Linked DNA regions of Homo sapiens: all the other regions are linked to region 3. The links come from fine-mapping of genetic effects on gene expression. A gene starts in region 3. Each other region holds a variant in brackets. All regions are shown on one strand. Distances are from middle to middle. Region 1 overlaps TMBIM4 (transmembrane BAX inhibitor motif containing 4). Region 2 overlaps IRAK3 (interleukin 1 receptor associated kinase 3). Region 3 holds the start of IRAK3 (interleukin 1 receptor associated kinase 3). Region 4 overlaps IRAK3 (interleukin 1 receptor associated kinase 3).

Region 1 (5,151 bases), 35 kb after region 3:
AAGGCTCTCTCCCATATTTTAGGTGTTTGGTATGGCAGCGCCCCACTTCCAAGTACCAAGATATATATTCTGTTTGTGTCACAAATTACCCTAAACCTTATTGGTTTAAAAGAATAAACATTATCTCAGTTTCTGAGAGTCAGGAATATGGGTAGTTTTAGTTTAGAGTTTGTCCTAGGTTGTGGTCAAGATATTGGCTAGTGCTGGTCATCTGGAGGCTTGACTGGGGGTGAAGGATGTGCTCCCAGGCAGGCTACTCACAGGGCTATTCATAGGAGTCCCTAGTTTCTCACTGGCTGTTGGCAGGAGACCTCACTTTCCTCCCACATGTGTTTTTCCATAGGGTGCCCTTAGTTTCCTCACAACATAGCTGGCCTTCCCTGAGTATGCATTCTTAATGGGGTGCTATTGACCCCATTAGATGATAGTTGGATGTAAAGATCTAAAAAAAATCTTAAGATTTTATAATGGTGTATATCCTTCCAAAGGGCGATGGTACAACAGATATATAGTATATTTGTGGCATTAAAATTTTATTGAGGGGGCTATTAGGAAAAAAGTACCTAGAAGGCTACTTAGGCGGGGAATAATGAAAACAAGGTTGAGAAACACTGTCCCAGAGGAAATGATCCAAGAAAGAGCAGGAGGAAGCCATAATCCCTTTTATGACTTGGTCTTAGAAGTAGCACCCTGCCACTTTTGCATCATTCTTTTTGTTAGGACTCACTTGAAGGGAGTGTCAAAGAACTGTGACTTACCATAAACCACTACTTCATGTAAAGAATGATAAGGGCATTCCAAGTAGAGGAAAGAGCAAGTGCAAAGGCCCTGAAGCGGGAAAGTGACTAATGTGGGTAAAGCATGGTGAGGAAGAGAGAGAGTGCTGAGATGAGATTGGAAAGGTTCTACATCATGTGGGACCTTGTAGGTCCTATAAAATCTTTCACATTTTATTTTAAGTGGAACGATTATTTAAGTATTTAAGCAGAGTCACATGATATGGTTTACTTTACATAAAAATCACTTTGACAGAGTGTGTGGAGAAATAGGTGGGACAAGAGTGAAAGCATGGGGACCAATCAGAAGGTTCCTCCAGTGGTCCAGGTGAGAGATTAGGCACACTTTGACTAGGGAGGTAACAGAGGAGACCAAAAGAGGCAGATACGTTGTACTTTCAAAGGTAGAACTACAGTAGTTGCTGATAGATTGGGAACAGGGAGGGGGTAATCAAAGATGACTTCTATGTTTTTGGCTTGGATGATGTTGGTGCTGGTTATCGATGAGAACACTGGGAGAACAGCAAATTTGGATAAATGAAGAGCTCCAGTTTTGGCCATGTTAAGTTTTGAGATGTCAAATAGAAGGGAAGAAATCAGGACTCAACAAAAATTGGAAAATCTTGCTGTTTGACTAGTATTCTTTTCATATTGAATCTTTTATATTTTCCTGAAAGCTGTATATGCATGTCCTTTGCTACTTTTTATATTATTCACAATGGGTGTCAATACTGCTTTTGCCTGGGATTTGGCTTATGATACTAAAGTATAGAAAAAGTTATGGTCTGGAATATCTGCATAAGGAGAATTTTTTAGTATGAACTTAAAGGCTTAGCACGAGTTTCTTTAAAATGTTTTTAATTGCAATAGTAATACATACTGCTGGTATCTAAAAAATACAGATTAGTAAAGAACTGAATATGAAAATTATCCTTAGTACTACTGCCCAGGGTATACGAACACCTGGATGTATATTATTCTAGTCTTTTATTACATATGCACTTGTGTACATATATACAAATAAACATTAGATCTTAATGTGCACATTGTTTTGAACTGTAAATCAGTTTTACAAAATGGTAAGAAATAACACTAATTTCCACTGCTTGAGAGAATATATATCATATGGATTGGGTTTGAGTTATATGAGGTACATAATAGGGTATCAAAAGTAAAGAATACATTCCAGGGCCAGTCACGGTGGCTCCTGCCTGTAATCCCAACACTTTGGGAGGCCAAGGTGGGTGGATCACTTGAGCCCAGGGGTTCAAGACCAGCCCGGGAATGTGGTAAAACCCCATCTCTACAAAAAAATTAGCTGGGCGTAGTGGCATGCACCTGTAGTACTAGCTACTGGGCAGGCTGAGTTAGGAGAATTGCTTGAGCCCTGGAGATTGGGGCTGCAGTGAATCATGATCATGCCACTGCACTTAAGCCTGGGTGACAGAGTGAGACCCTGCCTCTCTCTCTCTCTCTCTCTCTCTCACACGTGTGCACACACACCCCATCCTGGTGTGGGCCTGTATTCCCAGCTGCTTGGGAGGCTGAGTCTAGAGGATGGCTTGAATCCAGGACATGGAGGCTGTAGTGTAAAGAATATGATTTTT[TTTC/C]TCATAGCCCAGAAAATCCCTTGCAGGTGTAATGGCTTGACCTTTGGTTTAATAATTAAATTTGCAGAAAGATATCCCAAATAACATTGTCCATGCCAGTAGTATATTCTTTACTCTGCTTTTATGAAAAAGATAGAAATGACCTCCCAAAGCATTCAGACATCAGGGCCTTTTTGAGAAAGTAAGTCATAGATCTGTTGTGGAGTTGAGAACTGTTTATCTCTAAGCCAAAATACAATGGACACTCAGTGTTCTTATGAGTCAGTGGTTAAATCATATGCCCAGTAAAATCTGTTTAGGACATCAGGAAAAACTCACTCTAGATTTTGGAAAGAGTGCCAGAGGGAAAAATTAAGTTTAATATTTAGGCATTTTGATTATTAAATCCTTAGTATTCATGAAAATTCCCTTATTCCTGTGAAAGATTTTGTTTTTTTAACTTGATATTTGGCTGACATGCCATCAAAGCACTTCACCCTTCCTTGGAAAGCCAGGTCTTTAGTAGGAATGTTTTTCAAAAGGAACATCCACCATCTAATGCTCATCTACCATGAGCATTGCCATGATAGGCAAGAGACAACATCACATTTTCTTTTGTTGGGTAAAAGTCATTCAACATGATTTTTATTGCCTGCCTAAGCACAGTCCTCTAAGCAGTGGCTCCATTATTCTGTTTCATTTCAGAATAATACTTTTTCTCTTCCCTGACTAGTAAAATTTACCCTTCATAAATTTAATGAAAGTTTATTTAAAAGCAAATAAAATTTAACGACTGTTTATGCAATGCCATCCACTAGGCTGAGTGGTGGGGGTAAGGAAATGAATTAGGCTTCTTCCCAATTATTAGGGAGCTTTCGGTCTTTACAGTCTAATGGGGGTGAAGGACAAGTAGACTTATCAATTATAAAGTGATTAATGGTATGTTTAGGGTTCCTCAGGAACATGAAGGAGAAACATCTAATTCAGAATGCGGAACTGAGAAAGGCTGCATCTTGAAAGATGATTTGTAGTTAGCCGGAAGTGTGAAGGGAGAGGGATATCACAGAGAGAAGGTGGGAACTGTTATTAATGTTTTATTTCTGAAGGTGGTAATGAGTTCTTGGAAGTTCATTGTATTATTTGTATCACTGTATATCAGAAGACTTTAATAATAAGCATTGAATCATTAAGCCTTAGAGGTGATTTCTGGGTATTGATAACAAAATATGAAAGGATTTTCTATTGTATAGAAACTAGAGGCAGGGGTACTATAAATGAGAAATAATAATAGATGAGTGAAAGTAAGTTTATATATTACTTGCCTTTTCAGGATAAGTTTCATTTGGGGGAAATAGTTTTACTATTTTTGAAATTAAGACATAAAAAAACTTAACGTTTATATGCTTTCTATTTCTCCTTTTCAGATTCAAGATATAATCATTCTTTTAAAATGTTCTGCTTTTAGTCTTTTGCTATGTTGTATCCTGCTGTGTACAACTAGGCATTTAATACATTTTTCATTTTGATGAAAACATTTACATTTTGGCCCACTAATTTTTTTTAGGCTCATGCTTTTTGGAGAGAGGTTTAGATATCTCTTACAATTTTTAAATTATTTTGGAAGCTTTGTATTCTTGTCTAGTTTTAGTTATACATTACATTATTAGGAGGAAAATTAGGAAAGAATACGTGTAAAAAACAATTTTTTAAAGAGGAAATTTGATTTTACTGTTCTATGATAAATGGTTAAGAAAATAGTAATGTAATTTTTTTTCTCTTTTAGCCTTTCTGAGAAAAGTCTACAGCATTCTTTCTCTGCAGGTTCTCTTAACTACAGTGACTTCAACAGTTTTTTTATACTTTGAGTCTGTACGGACATTTGTACATGAGAGGTAAGGTAATGAGATGGTAATGAATAATTTTCAGACATTGCATATGATCAAAAAGGCATATTATAAACAAAATCCACTTTTTTCTATTAACTTTTGAGGTTAAAATGTAAAAAAGGTTCATTTACTCTTATAAGCCTGATTAGTTTTGTTTTTGATGAAGAAAAATACTCCACAACATGGTATTTACCTCTGAACTTTTTAGCTTTAGTTTCTTAGGGTTAAACCCTTGGTAAAAATTAAGAATTTTTACTGCATGCCATTTTTAAAAGTCTTAAGTTTTAAAAACTTTATTAGACTATATTCCCTGTGCTCAAAGCCTAAGACAGTACTTGAAAAATAAATGTGCGTTCATTTTAGTTTTGGCTCATGACTAGCATAATTTCACCAAGAAGTTTTCAAAAGAGCTCCACATGATTCATCCCTGATCTTTAATCAGGGATGAATCATAATTATTTCCATGATACAGTTTTGTTATATTAAAGGAAAGGAGAACTAATGAATATTTTCATAGAAGTAGAGAATTTCTGTCCTCCCTTCCCTTCTCCCCACCAAAGGGGAGTCTTGAACTATTAGTTTGCTATGTGAGGTAAAATTCTTTAATTTAAATTACAGCCATATGGCAAATATCCTAAGAAAGTAGTTGTTATTTTTAAATTTCTTTATTGTATAATATTAGTATACTAATTGCAAACATTATTCAAATGTGATAGAAGTTTATATGGTAAAAAGAAAAAGTTTCCCCCATTCATTTTGGGCTCTTTTCTTTGTCTTGAGGCTCCTTTCTACCTTGTACTCCTCAAATTTTCCAGATATAAAATAATTTGATAGTTTGGTGTGGATCATTCCAGATTTTTTCCCCTGTACTTTCATAAACATATAAAATAGATAAATTTT
Region 2 (5,151 bases), 32 kb before region 3:
TCATTGGATGGTCATGAGGATTAATGAATTAACACATGTAAAGCACTTGAAACAGGGCCTAACACAAAATAAATATTAGCAAAATAAAAATGGTACCCCAGGAATAGCCAACATTATAAAATTGTAAATATCTCCAGATTAATCTATAAAGTTATTAAAATTGCATTAAAAATGCCGATAGAATTTTTGAAACCTAGACAAGCTGTTGTTGTAGTTCACAGAAAACACCTCACCAGACAAATAAATGGATCAGACAAATAAATGTAAAAAATGAAACCATGAAAGTACTGGGAAAAAATGGGAGAATTATTTTATTAGATTGGTGCAAAAATTACTGCGGTTTTTGCCCAGCTACTCGGGAGGCTGAGGCAGAAGAATGGCGTGAACCCAGGAGGAAGAGCTTGCAGTGAGCTGAGATGACATCACTGCACCCCAGCCTAGGTGACAGAGCAAGACTCCGTCTCAAAAAAAAATAAAAATAAAAAAAAGTAATGTTTACTTTTAATGGCAAAAACCATGATAACTTTTTTTTTTTTTGAGACGGAGTCTCGCTCTGTTGCCCAGGCTGGAGTGCAGTGGCGTGAACTCAGCTCACTGCAAGCTCTGCCTCCTGGGTTCACGCCATTCTCTAGCCTCAGCCTCCCGAGTAGCTGGGACTACAGGCGCCCGTCACCATGCTTGGCTAATGTTTTGTATTTTTAGTAGAGACGGGGTTTCACAGTGTTAGCCAGGATGGTCTTGATCTCCTGACCTCATAATCCGCCTGCCTCGGCCTCCCAAAGTGCTGGGATTACAGGCGTGAGCCACCGCGCCTGGCCTCAAACCATGATAACTTTTAATGGCAAAAACTATAACATAAAATCTGGAATCCGCAAAAGAAAACATTGATAAACTTAACTGTCAGGCCTCTGAGCCCAAGTTAAGCTATTGCATCCCCTGTGACCTGCATGTATACATCCAGATGGCCTGAAGTAACTGAAGAATCACAAAAGAAGTGATATTTAAATGGCATGTTCCTGCCTTAACTGATGATATTCCACCACAAAAGAAGTGAAAATGGCCGGTCCTTGCCTTAACTGATGACATTACCTTGTGAAATTCCTTCTCCTGGCTCATCCTGGCTCAAAAAGCTCCCCCACTGAGCACCTTGTGACACCCCACTCCTGCCCCACAGAGAACAACCCCCCTTTGACTGTAATTTTCCTTTACCTACTCAAATCCTATAAAACGGCTCCACCCCTATCTCCCTTCGCTGACTCTCTTTTCGGACTCAGCCCGCCTGCACCCAGGTGATTAAAAAGCTTTATTGCTCACACAAAGCCTGTGTGGTGGTCTCTTCACACAGACGCGAGTGAAATTACCTATATTAAAACCATTTCTACATGTCAAAACTATAATAAGCAAAGATGAAATGACAGTATGGTAAAAAATTATTTGCGTCTCATAACATAAAAATAGGCTGATTTTCTAATAGGAATTATAAAATATTCCTTTGAACCACTAAAAAAAGCCTAATTTTAAAAAATAGGTAAGGAATATTATAAGCTACTTCATAGAAAATAAAATATATCTCTTAAATATATAAAAGGATTATTAATATCTCTCAGAAAAATTGATACTATGAGACTTGTTTTTTTGAGAGGCCTCAAATAAATAAAATATAAATGAAAGAGGCGACATTACAACTGATACCACAGAAACACTAAGGATCATAAGAGACTATTATGAACTATCGTATGCCAACAATCTGGAAAACTTAAAAGAAATAGATGGATTCCTAGAAACATACAATCCACCAAGACTGAATCATGAAGAAATAGAAAACCTAAACAGACCAATAACAACCAAGGAGATTGATTAAATAATCAAAAACCTCCCAACGAAGAAAAGTCCAGGACCATAGAGATTCTGGGTAAATTCTAACAAGCATTTAAAGAAGAATTAATACTAATCCCTGTCAAAATCTTTTAAAAAATTAAAGACGAGGGAACACTGTCAAACTTATTTTAGTAGGCCAGCATTACCCTCATATCAAAGCCAGATAAGAACACAATGAGAAAACGTTATATGCCAATATCCATGATGGCCATAGATACAAAAATCCTCAACAAATTTAGCAAGCTAAATTCAACAGAACATTTTTTGTTTGTTTGTTTGTTTGTTT[T/GTTTT]TGGAGATCGAGTCTTGCTCTGTTGCCCAGGCTAGAGTGTGGTGGCATGATCTCAGCCCACTGCAACCTCCGCCTCCCGGGTTCAAGCAATTCTTGTGCCTCAGCTTCCTGAATAGCTGGGATTGCAAGCGTGCACCACTACACCTGGCTAATTTTTATATTTTTAGTACAGATGGGGTTTCATCATGTTGGCCAGGCTGGTCTTGAACTCCTGACCTCAGGTGACCCACCTTCCTGGTCTCCCAAAGTGCTGGGATTACAGGCATGTGCCCCTGTGCCCAGTCTTCAACAGAACATTAATAGGATGAAATACCAGAGTCAAACAGGACTTATCCCTGAGAAGCAAGGATGGTTCAACATGTGCAAATATGTAAATGATACACCATATTAACAGACTGAAAAATAAAAATCACAAAACCATCTCAACAAATGCAAAAGCATTTGATAAAATTCAACATCCTTTCATGATAAAAACTCTCAACAAATTAGGTATAGAAGGAATGTATCTCAATGTAATAAATGCCATATATGACAAACCCACAGCTAACATCATACCTTAACAGTGAAAAGCTGAATGCTTTTCCTCTAAGTTCAGGAAAAAGATAAGTGTGCCCACCCTTTCCATTTCTATTCAAGATAGAGCTGGAAGTCCTAGCCAGAGCAATTAGGCAATAAAAAAGAAATAAAAGCATCCTAATTGGAAAGGTGCAAGTTAAAGGTGGCTCTGTCTACAGATGACATGATGAAAACCCAAAAGACTCCACCAAAAAAACTGTTAGAACAATAAACAAATTCAGAAAAGTTGCATAATACAAAATCAACATATAAAAATCAACTATGTGTCTATATGCTAACAATGAACAATCTGAAAAGGAAATTAAGGAAATGATCCTATTTACAACAGCATTAAAAAGAATAAAACACTTAGGAATAAATTTAACCAAGGAGGTGAAAATTTTGTGCGTTAACAACTATAGGACACTGATGAAAGAAACTGAAGAAGACACAAATAAATGGAAAGATGCATTACATACCTGAATTGAAAGAATTAATATTGTTAAAATGTCCATACTACTCAAAGTGAGCTACACATTCAACACATTTCTATCAAAATTCCAATGCCATTTTTCACAAAAATAGAAGAAAAATGCTAAAATTTATATAGAACCATGAAAGACCCAAAACAGTAAGTGAGTTTAAGAAAGAAGAACAGGCCGGGCGCGGTGGCTCACGCCTGTAATCCCAGCACTTTGGGAGGCCGAGGCGGGCGGATCACGAGGTCAGGAGATCGAGACCGTCCCGGCTAAAACGGTGAAACCCCGTCTCTACTAAAAATACAAAAAATTAGCCGGGCGTAGTGGCGGGCGCCTGTAGTCCCAGCTACTTGGGAGGCTGAGGCAGGAGAATGGCGTGAACCCGGGAGGCGGAGCTTGCAGTGAGCCGAGATCCCGCCACTGCACTCCAGCCTGGGCGACAGAGCGAGACTCCGTCTCAAAAAAAAAAAAAAAAAAAAAAAAGAAAGAAGAACAAAGCCAGAGGCATTCACGTCCTGATTTCAAACTATATTACAGAGCTATAGTAATAAAAACAGTATGGCACCGGCATAAAAACAGACTCATTGACCAATGGAATAGAATTTAAAAAAAAAAATAACAGAAATAAACCTACATATATATCATCAACTAATCTTTGAAAAGGGCACCAAGAATATACAACAGAAGAAGAAAATTATCTTCAATAAATGGTGTTGGGAAAACTGAATACCCACATACAAAATAATAAAATTGGACCTTTGTCTTACACCATATACAAAAATTAACTCAAAATGGATTAAATACTTAAATGTAAGATCTGAAACCATACAAATCTGGAAGAAAACATAGGGAAAATTTACCTTGACATTGGTCTTGGCAATGATTTTTTGGCTATGACACAAAAAGCATAGGTGACAAAAGCAAAAATGAACAAGTGGAACTATATCAAACTAAAAAGCTTCTGCACAACAAAGGAAACAATCAACAAAATGAAATGGAAACCTATGGAATGGGAGAAAATACTTGCAAACCATATATCTAATAAGGTGTTAAGATACAAAATAGTGAGGAACTCATACAATTCAATAGCAAAAAAGCAAATAACCTGATAAAAATGGGCAAATGACCCAAAGAGATAGTTTTTCAAAGAAGACATACCAATGACTAAGAGGTATATGAAAAGATGCTTAACATCACTAATCATCAGAAAAATGCAAATCAAAACCACAATGAGATATCACCTCACACTTATTAGGATGGCTATTATCAAAAAGACAAGTGATACAAGAGTTGCTGAGGGTATGGAGAAAAAGAAGTCCTTGTATGCTGTTGGTTGGAATATAAAGTGGTACAGCCATAATGGAGGTTCCTTAAAAAACTGAAAATACAACTACCATAAGATCCAACAATCTCACTTCTGGGTATGTATTAGTCCATTTTCATGCTGCTGATAAAGACATACCTGAGACTGGGCAATTTACAAAAGAAAGAGGTTTAATGGGCTTACAGTTCCATGTGGCTGGGGATGCCCCACAATCATGGTGGAAGATAAAAAGCACATCTCACATGGCGGCAGACAAAAGAACAGAGCATGTGCTGAGAAACTCCCCTTTTTAAAACCATCAGATCTTGTGAGACTTATTCACTATCACAAGAACAGTATGGGAGAAACTGCCCCCGTGATTCAATAATCTCCGACCAGGTCCCTCTCACAACACATGGGAACTATGGGAGTATATTCAGGATGAGATTTGGGTGGGGACACAGAACCAAACCATATCAGGGTACGTATGTAAAAGAAATAAAATCAGTATCTCAAAGAGATATCTGCACTCTCATGTTTAATGCAGCATTATTCACAGTAACCAAGACATAGACACAACTTAAATGTCCATTGACAGAGGAATGGATAAAGAATAAAGTGTGAGACACACACACACACACACATACACA
Region 3 (5,151 bases):
AAAAAATGAAAGAAGCTGGACCCTCAACCCAGACTTCCTGAATCAGCAGCTCTAGGAGTGGGACCTGCATCTGTGTATTTAAAAGACTGCATAGGTGATTTGTGTTTGTGAATGACTGGCTTACCTTATCCTGCACACACTGGTCATATCATATAGGCTGCTATATGAGCTGCCTTTGTAAACATAACCTGACACTCACCGTCATCAAGAATCACGATCGGCTCGAGAGAGCTTTACTTAGTATATTACAGTTGTTTTCTACATTTAAGCTTGGGCTGTCAGCTGTCCTGAGCATACAAAGGACTGCCTCTTTGATTCAGTCCTCTGTCACTCTCCTTCCCCTCTCGAAGGTCAAGTTTTCCCTACCTGCACCTCTTCCCCTCTTTCTCCCTTCGCTGTGCCCACAGGAAAACTCGGCATGTTTAGCACAGGCAGTTGCCTCAACACCCTGAACTGGGCTAGCCTTGCCTTCTTGCTGAGCCAAGAACTTGTGCAGCACCTGGTCAGGGCCAGCTCAGTAGTCCAGGCAGTCAGTAGGCATGACCACCTGCACAATGAATTACAGCTGAAGTATCATGGAGTAAACATTTTAGACCCTTTCCCTGTGAGAGAATGAATACACAAAGGGACAATGGCCAGCTTATATATAAAAATAGAACTCTGCAGGCAATGTACATCAACCAGTCCAAGAAACCAACCTACCGTCTACAGTATCTAACAAGTTAAACTATCAGTAACTGGGTTAAACTGTAGCAACTAGCCCAGGCAGCCAAACAAGAACCCCTGTAGCAACCTGTCTCAAATGGCCAGGACTTGAATAATTACTGACCACTTCCTCAATTTTTGCTCCTACTTCCAACTTAGGGCCAACCAGAGAAAGCCAATTATGTACCCCTAAACAAACACACAAAATACCCCCTTTTAGGTAGCTCAACTACAGCTTCCCCATATCAACAGCCTCCAATCAGGACACAGCTGAAGCCTTCTTCTCCCACCCTCCTCCATCCTCTGTCTGCTTTTGAGTCTCTGCCAAACACAAGCAATGGTGCTGGCTCCCTTGCTTTGAAAAAAATAGCTTTTGTTTGTTCTCATTTGGGTGGTCCTCATTCATTTTCACCACTAGGAAAATAGGGCTGCATGCTTGAAATGGATCACTGAATTGTTCTTTGATGCCAGAAATGTCTGTACTTTAGGGAGGCTGTTAGATGTGGCCAGAAAGAACACAGCAGTAAGGGGAGAAGTGTAGAGTAGCTGGGGTTAAGGACATAAGCCTTGGATCCAGACTACCATGGTTCAGATCCTGGCTCTTCCATTTCCAGCTGGTGAACCTGAACAAGTTACTTAACCAATTTGTACCAGTTTCCTGACCTGTTAAAAAAACACTGGCGATGATAATGACTCACAGAGTAATTGGAGAAGTTATATGAGACAAGCCATGTAAAGCATGAATATCTGGATTTCAATGCTATCAACAGAAAGAGAGAGAATAATCTGCCTCACTAATTTACCACACCCACCTGGCCCCATTCACCAACATTAAACTGGACTAAAAACACTTTTCTTTCTCAAAGTCAGTAACTCTAGGAAATCAACGGGTATAAATACTGTCCACGCCAAAATCCATCTCAAAAAGATCTGATGGGGAAGTGACCTTATCCCTCAAAATCCCTCAAATGCACACTGGAAATCTCGTTTTCTAGAAATCAGACTTTTTTTTTTTTCTTAAGGGCCATAACTTAAAATTACAGAGCTTAAAATATATAAACATTTTTTGTATAACCAGAAGCCCATTGCTACAATTCAAAGACTGTCACCATACTGTTCATCAGTAACAAAGAAAACTCTCCTCTTAGGCCTTCTGCTAGTCCTGGTAAGAAAAATCCTATTTCAGACCATTAAAGCTAAGTTATTTTGACATAATCATGATTCTTTTCAATAAACATTAAACATGACATTGTGGAATATCAAATCTAACCAAAAATGCCTGTACTTAACAAAACGAAGATTTTTGTCCGAATTATCTCTGGCTACACTCAACACTTCCAGCAGGCAGTTGCTCAACTTTCCAATGTCTGCATAAAATACAGTTCTGAAGCCAATTTTTTTAGATTAAAATAAAAAGCCACCCTTTAGCATAAACCTTCATTCAACGAAATTGGGTAAATAAGATTTAATTAAGAAAATTAGGAGCCGCGTTCATTGCAAACCGTAGTTTACTTTAGCATTTCACTTGTAATTAAGTTAGGGGCTTAGGGATGCATTGAAAACACCAAAGGATAAGTATCTCAAAGTTCTAAAAATGTCTCAATACTAAAATGATGTTCTGGGGTGATTTTGCAAGGACCAGAAGACATCATACATTGCGAACCCAGTGAGGGTGGCATCGCGGACGAACAGAAGATGCTTTCACGCTGGTTATCTGTCTTTCCCAGGCCTCGGCTCCCTTGACTTTGCAGCGATACCCAAAATTCTTTGAAAGAGAAGGGAGGGAAGGCATCTGGGTCCCAGGGAGTCTCTGCATCCAACCCAGGAAAGGAGGGGGCCGGCTCCCTGGCGGGAACTTCCCGGAGGCCGCGCCAGCCCCGCGAGGGACCCCAGCCATGCAGGGCGACGCCGAGCGGGCCCCGCGGCGCGCTGGGCTCCCCCGCCGCCCCCGGCCGGTCCCCGCCGACTCACCCAGGCCGCGCCAGCCCAGCGCGCCGTCGCAGCTGTCCAGAACAGCGCAGAGCTCTCCGAGCAGCGCGGGCGGCAGGTCGAACAGCAGCGTGTGCGCCGACAGCGCGCCGCGGGCCCCACAGTTCCCCGCCATGGCTCGGCTGCCCGAGCCCCGGGGACGAGGCGGAGTCCAGGTCCCTGCACGCCTGCGACAGGCCGTTACACAACCGCGGAAATCCTGCTTCCACGACGGCAGCAGAGCCCTAGGAACACGCCGTTCTCCGGTCACTGCAGGGGCGGTGCCCACGTGACGCAAGGCGCGCCTCGCCCGAGATGCCCCTGCGTCCGCCTGGCCAGGCCTGGGGGTTACCCGACCCGGGTTCTCCCTTCGCTGGCTTTGCGCCCCTTCACACCTCTGCGGTGGGGACGGAGCTGCCGAGACAAGCAGAGTGCGAACTGGAGAAAGCCCAGAGCTCAGAGCTCCCAGGAGCCCACCGTGCCCCACGGCTAGGCGGTCTCCTGGTGTGGACGGCTAGCGGTGTCATTACTTCTTACAAAAGTTTATTTTTGAAAGCTTCTCCCTTCCTTCCTTCTTCCCTTCCTTTCTTTTCTTCCTTTTTTCTTTGTTTTGAGTCAGGTTCTCACTCTGTCGCCCAGGCAGGAGCGCAGTGGCGCTATCTCAGCTCACGGAGCCTCCACCTATTGGGCTCAAGCGATCCTCCCACCTCAGCCTCCCGAGTAGCTGGGACCACAGTCGCACGCCACCACGTCCGGCTAATTATTTTTTTTCGTTTTTCGTAGAGAGGGAGTGTCGTTATGCTGCCCAGGCTGGTTTCAAACTCCTGGCCTCAAGCGATCCTCCCACCTCCGGCTTCCCAAAGTGCTGGGATTCGGGGTGTTAGCCACTGTCCCGGACTACTTCTTTTTTATCCTGTCAGAAAAACTATCCATGTTCATCGAGGAACACTTGGAAAACCCAGAAAAAAACTGAAAAAAGAAGATAATCACTCACAACCCCACTCAGCCCATCACACTCTAAAAGTTTTGACACATTTTCCTCCCAACTTTTACTGAATTTAAACAGATAAAAATGTACATATATGGGATTATTATTGGAAAAGATGAATGTAGATACCAACAAGAGAAAAACAGAAAAGACACCAAATCAGCGTAAAATTATGTTCGTTTTCTTCACGAGGCGGCCTCTCCTCCATACACCTACTTGGTTTTAATAAATTTTCTTCCTCATGGGCTTCCTTGATGAAATATCGTTCCATCATTTTTTCCTTCCTCAAAGTGCTTCACACAATCTTCCTTTTTGCCTTCAACATGGAGTTTAAGTAAAATTGTTGTTTTGAAATCTTCACGGAGTTTAAGTAAAATTGTTGTTTCAAAATCTTCTAGGTCACATGAGGCATGTTACCAGTGACAAAAAGTTGTTTTGAAAGTGGTGAGAAAAATCTCAGCCTTAGTGACTGGAAGAGTGGGCAGTGGCCATCAAGTGAAAACACCAGAGGTGTTTTGAAACCTCTCAGATTGTAGTCTTTGGAATAGCTGCCCCTAGAGATCACGAGTGATGAAACACTATCATTTCATGCCCCTACCTGAATGGTTTTGCCAGCGAAAATACTTCATAAAAATGTATCTGAAAACTGGCAAAGCCCATACTGTGTGGGCAAGAATTTCGATATCCCGTTGTTCAAGGTTTTATTGTCAATCTGTACACACTGTACACCTACCTACCTTCCTTCCTTCCTTCCTTCCTTCCCTCCTTTCTTCCTTCCTTCCCTCCTTTCTTTCTTATTTGTTTTTTTTAGTCGCTCTGATTGCCCAGGTTGGGGTGCAATGGTGCGATCTCGGCTCACTGCAACTTCCACCCCCTGGGCTCAAGCCATCCTCCCACCTCAGCCTCCAGTACAGCTGGGACTACAGGTGCATGCCACCATGCCTGGCTAACCTTTGTAGTTTTTGTAGAGACGGGGTTTTCCCATGTTGCTCAATCTGGTCTCAAACTCCTGGGCTCAAGTGATCCACCTCCCTAGGCCTCCCAAGGTTCTGGGATTACAGGCATGAGCCACCACACCCGGCCCTCTATACATCTCTTAAAGGGACTACCTGAACATGCTGAGCAACAGAGGCAAAAGGCCATTAATTATTTGGTAGCTTTTGAATTGCTACTACAGGGAGGCAAACTCACTCAGAGGAAACAGGAAATCACTGCAGATGAGGGAAGCAATCAGAAAGGCCTGCTTTACCAGATCTTGTAATTTACCAAGAAGCAAGGATCCTAAGTGAAAGCTAGAGTATGTGAAATTTCCTGTATTTTCAGTGTTGGCAGTCGTTCTCAGACCATGTTGCCTTCCTATTCCTAAAACTGTCTTGAGTTTTGATTTTTATATCATCAGGTTGTATCATCATGGTTGCTATCAACTGCTGATCTCCCCGACTCCAATTCCTTCTCCTCGTTTTTAGACTCTCTAGCTCCTGGCTCATTGT
Region 4 (5,151 bases), 51 kb before region 3:
TACAGCAACAGCCACGGGATATCAAGAAGTTCTTAATTCTGAACAAATTTTGGATCTTACAAAAGCTCCAGAAGTCTTTGCTATCCCTATACAGGTAGGTTAACGGGCAGGCCCCAGTTCCATAGGTCTGAACTGCAAGTGTTCTTACTGTTCAGAGGACTCAGAGTCCTACTTCTATTTAGAGAGTTTGGGGGAAACAGTTCAATGTATGAAGCTAAGGCCTTAAAGATTCTAGTCCAGACTTTGTCTAGGGCTGAGTTGACAACAGAAAAAACAAAGGCACTTCCGGTGGTCTTTTTTTTTTTTTCGAGACAAAGTTTCATTCTTGTCCCCCAGGCTGGAGCGCATTGGCACGATCTCAGCTCACTGCAACCTCTGCCTCCCGGGTTCAAGTGAGTCTCCTGCCTCAGCCTCCTGAGTAGCTGGGATTACAGGCGCCTGCCACTACACTCGGCTAATTTTTAGTAGAGATGGAGTTTCACCATGTTGACCAGGCTGGTCTTGAACTTCTGACTTCAGGTGATCCACCCGCCTCGGCCTCCCGAAGTGCTGGGATTACAGGCATGAGCTACTGCGCCCAGACCCCGCGGTCTTTTAAGGATAAAGACACATTTTAAACTTTATTTCACTCCTCCTTCCGCTAAGGGTGGCAAGGGAATTGTAAAATCCAAAAAGCCCACCTTCTGAGCTCTAGGGCCTCTTATCAGCTGTGTGCTCTTAGCATTTATGGAAGGAAGGTCAGAGAGGCCTGGTTCCCAAGGCTCGTATCAATGAGCACAGTTGTCATTTCTCTCCTTGCCTTCTCCCTTCTCCCTGGAGAACCCAGCAGCTGCTAAAGCCAGCCTGGGCCTCACACACCCCCATCTGTCACTCCTCACCCACTCTTACTTTCTCACTTGGAGAACTGTTGACTATCCTGACATACCTCAGATGAGGAACAGACTAGAGTCAGATCCGACTTCTCTCCAGCTCTAGATAAGAAGAGACTGTCAGTTCATAATCACTTCTTCCCTAGGTTGACTCTTCAATGGATCAGATCAAGTCTGAGGCTCCTGGAGATGCCCTGAGGGTTTCAGAGTCCTGGGGGCATTTGAATGCAGGAGTTTGCCGGTGGGCCAGGAGGCGAGGTGGGAAAAAAAGGTTCTCCAACCTTCATTGCCAGGACCCCACCTTCTGCCCTTCAACTTTGGAGTCACTTCTGCATGCCCCATTTCATTTCAGCACAGGGGGAGGGTGGGAATGTTCTGAATGGCAGATATTCAATGTCAAACACCTAAACATCTTCCTCTATCACAGCTCTAAAAAAAGGCATAGAATTATAATTGACAATGCCAGAATCATGAGACTGCAAAAGCTGAATTTTTGAAACACACACACACACACAAAAAAACCCTGAATCTTTTAAGTACAAAAAGGGAGAAAAGAGCAACAGTAATAACAACAAAACCTTCAATCTAATTCTTTATTTGACCCATAGCAAAGCTGGTGGGATGCTTTCAGCAAATGGTGAGTCAGCTTCTGTGAAAGTTGGGCAGAAGGGAGTTGAGTAACCACAAACAATGCTTACACCATAAAACCCAGAGAGGACTTTGGGTCAGTGAAAGGCCATCAACAAGATGTGAAATTATTCTAGGGTACTGAATTTACAATTTGAATAATGACAATCGGTGAAAAGATAAGTCGTTTTTCAGCTGACTTTAGTGTATAACATAAATTTTGAGTCCAGTGATTTATTCTGTTCTAAATAAAGGTTAGCGGTAGCTGAGGAAGAAGGATGTTCTGTTTTAGGAAAGCGGAAATTGCAAAAGGCCCTTCAACGATCAATTTCTACCTTAATTCTTTTCCCCTGCTTCAACCTTAAATAGAATGTTCAAACACAAAGTGTCTTCAGCTTCCATGCAGGTCAGCTGAGTAAGTTAATCCTGTGGGGTGAAAATAAACTAACAAAATTAAGAACCTAACACAACTACAGTCATGGCAATATCATGCAAAAGGGCAGCCTGCAAGCAACTGTGGCCACCAAAGAGATAGATAAAAGACATCTTTGACCCATATCCATGGTTCATATCCTCAATTTCATGCTTCTACAATCGATTTGTTCTACTCTTTATCACAAGGCTATTTACCTTAACAGAGAGGCCATCCCCTCTCCAGATAATTCCTTTAACAGAATGATCATTGGTTGTACACTGAGGAAGTATGGAGAATCCTACACAGATGATGAGTTTGTAACCTGACTCTAGGATGTTACTTAATCTCTCTATTAGTAGGGGTCTCTAGGACAATTTTCGGGGGGACCTGAATCCCCCAAACAAATGCTACTTTGTAATGAGAATTGCTTTCTTTGCTCACCAGTTTATCTCCTAATTAAGTTCAATCCCTTGGACCTTAAACATAAGACAAGATGCTCCACCTAGATTATAATGCAGGATTTGAATTCAAGTGAAAATACCATATTTGGCATGAAAGAGCATGATTGGTTTTTAAAGAGAGAGAGATATATATACCCACATATATATAATATATATACCGATATATTTTATATATATATATATGTGGGTATATATATAGTATATATATGGGTCCAGCAGTCCAGCGCCTGGGTGCCTGGAAACTCTCAGGAAAGGCCAGGACTCCACAGAAGGACCTGGGGAAGAGGGGGCAGGGAGCCACAGATTGGCTCCAGAGATAAAGAGGACCCAACGGCCCCTCTGGGACAGCCTGAGGCAACAGCACACA[T/A]GTGCTGTCTGTATTACGGCTGTTGCAACACTGAGACACCCCTCACCAGATGCCCTGCCTCCCCTAACCAGATGAGGCAAGACTCAGTTTCTCCTAGAACCTGCAGGCTACTAAAACAGTTGTGCACCCCACCCCAACTTAAGTGTGCACTGCATCCTGCCTGGAATGCTACAAATCTGAAACCCTTTATTCCCCTGTGGGACTGCGGAGCTTTCTTTTTCATCCCCACTGAACCTAGGCAGGTCTGAGAGACACAGTATTCAAGCTTGTTTTTGCTTGTTGGTGCCTTCTGAGTCTAGGCACTCGGTGCAAAGGCCCAGTAATGGGTGTTCCTCCTTTAATTGTGAAACTCCAAATCTACCCACAACTAGCACAACCCCCCTAAGCCTGTTTCCCTGTTGGTATAAAGATCTGATACTGCTTACTTCACGGGGTTCTTACCAGTATTAAATGAGAAAACGTAAGGAGTGACACTCACAGAGGGCTCAAAGTATGCTTTAAAGGATATAGGCTGGCCATTGTCCATCCTATGTCCATTACCTTACCTTAAAATCCCAAAAGGCTTGGTTGCATGTCTCTAGAAGTCCAAAGACACCAACTCAAGGAACAAAAATACAGGGGGTTGTAGGATGTCCCTGGAAATCTGAGGACCCTTCAGTTAGTTAATGCCAACAAATTGGCTGAGTTTCAAATAGTTCCAGGAAGTTCTGGGCAAACGTATTTTCCAGACATTTTAAGACAATGGAGAGACAGAAAAAAACTGGCATGTACCGTGCATATGTGTATGTATCTATGTATATAAGTAAATGAATGTTGGGGATTAGAGTGGTGGCAAATAGAATTAATAGGGGAAATTTTAATTTATGTCATATTTAATTGTTTTGGCATCCCTTAGAAAAAATCATATTTGGATATTTTAGAAGAGGGGAGGCACTGGGGGAAAACAGGAAAAATCTGAGGAAAAAGAATTATATATATCTAAAATTTTTCTGAAAGATAAAAATAGGCTTTTTGAGGGGGTTATGAGGGAAAGGGAGGAGACTGATTAAAGAATCTTATCAGTCAAACAAAGAAAGACACTTTGCATTCCCTGTAGGCTTTGACATGCCTGTTAAACACTGAGCTGGGCTCCAACCTTCCCGTCTGGGGATAAAGGCAGGAGGAGCCTGGGTCTTCAGGCAAGGGTGTCCTGGTGGCAGGGAGGGGCCAATCTGTGGCCCCCTATGCCCTCTTCCCAACCACTCAGTTTTTCTAGTCTTTTGGAGAGGAAATTACCCATGCACTCACTCACTCTGACCTTACATCTCTGATCAATTTCCATTAAAAAAAAAAAAAAGTCCATTTTGAAGCAAATGGCTTCTTCTTTGTTTCTTTCCTAGACCATTTCCCTTGTATGAAAGACTGTTTCACTTGGCAGGAGACAAATGGCAATACTGATTAAAGAACATGATTTTATAGGAAACATTAGAAATGTTCACCAAGATTATCTCTTTGCTTTGGAAACATTAGCAGGAATGAAATGTCTGGGATGGAAAATGCTAAGGATAAAATGCATTTCCATTTAAAATAGTTCATAAATGTGAAAACAATTAAGCTCACTAAGGGCTAGGAGGGAAATAACAAGGAAGTTTACTGCCTTCAGATGCTTTTAAGTGATCCTGTAAGTCAAAAACATCTTCGTTTCTCCAATAAAAATGTGAGGGTCTTTGGCCAAGAATATAGGCTGCAACTTTTCAAGATTCTTTTCTTTAAGTCCTTTCCTTCTCAAATTCCACCACCTGGAAGCAGGTTTTGTTTTTATAACATTCTCTTTGAAGAGTTCAAATTACTAAGACATTTTTTAGCTAAATAAACCCCCAGACTTGTTGAAAACACCTTGGAAACATGGGCACTGCTTCTCCTGTGGGTGTTTCTGAGCTGTGTCTTTGACAGCTTCTTCCTTAGAAAGCTATCTACTCTCACCGCTTTCCAGGCCCGATCTCCTCTTCAATGCCTCTTGCTTCTGCCAGGAGTCCAATGTCAGCATTTCCAAGTTTCTGCACACTAATTATGCTCTCCTCTCCTTCCCAATTTCCCTGTCTCTGCTGATGACGCCAACATGCTTCCATTAATCCCAGACCTTTAATTCCTTAAAAAGTGCATGATGATTGGACTCACACAAACATGGAATGCAACCTCCCTTTTCCCTTCTACAGCCATGAGACAGAGGCCAGTCACTAATCTCTGTAAGCCTCAGCTTTCTCCTCTATCAAATGGAGATAATAACTGTAATACCTGAACTCAGGCTTGCTGGGAGGATTGCTAACAAGTTATTCAGCAGGCGTTGATGCCAGGTGAAAAGTCTCTGGCTCTCATTGAGCTCTCTCATCTGACTGCAGTCTATCTGCTACCCTTAAGGTATTAGTACTTACT

The links. PIP is the estimated chance that this variant, and not a neighbour inherited with it, causes the effect. A credible set is the group of variants that fine-mapping cannot tell apart.
Region 1: its variant is the best candidate, but not a certain one, in a credible set for the expression of IRAK3 in whole blood (TOPMed, PIP 0.50).
Region 2: its variant is the best candidate, but not a certain one, in a credible set for the expression of IRAK3 in whole blood (TOPMed, PIP 0.79).
Region 4: its variant is the best candidate, but not a certain one, in a credible set for the expression of IRAK3 in whole blood (INTERVAL, PIP 0.73).

What each region holds. Positions count from the first base shown.
Region 1 is chr12:66,152,446-66,157,596 of GRCh38, reverse strand. TMBIM4 (transmembrane BAX inhibitor motif containing 4) reads left to right here. Exons shown (of 7, transcript NM_016056.4): 2 at 4,149-4,257. Among named protein-coding and RNA genes, the nearest start is that of TMBIM4, 15 kb to the left of the region's middle. The variant TTTC/C (reference allele first, on the strand shown) is at 2,384.
Region 2 is chr12:66,219,045-66,224,195 of GRCh38, reverse strand. The region is part of intron 6 of IRAK3 (interleukin 1 receptor associated kinase 3); the gene reads right to left. Among named protein-coding and RNA genes, the nearest start is that of MIR6502, 29 kb to the left of the region's middle. RefSeq lists enhancers at 430-929, 930-1,431. The variant T/GTTTT (reference allele first, on the strand shown) is at 2,165.
Region 3 is chr12:66,186,958-66,192,108 of GRCh38, reverse strand. IRAK3 (interleukin 1 receptor associated kinase 3) reads right to left here and starts at 2,895. Exons shown (of 12, transcript NM_007199.3): 1 at 2,677-2,895. The coding sequence starts at 2,809. RefSeq lists silencers at 2,561-2,720, 2,741-2,790.
Region 4 is chr12:66,238,224-66,243,374 of GRCh38, reverse strand. The region is part of intron 8 of IRAK3 (interleukin 1 receptor associated kinase 3); the gene reads right to left. Among named protein-coding and RNA genes, the nearest start is that of MIR6502, 10 kb to the left of the region's middle. The variant T/A (reference allele first, on the strand shown) is at 2,740.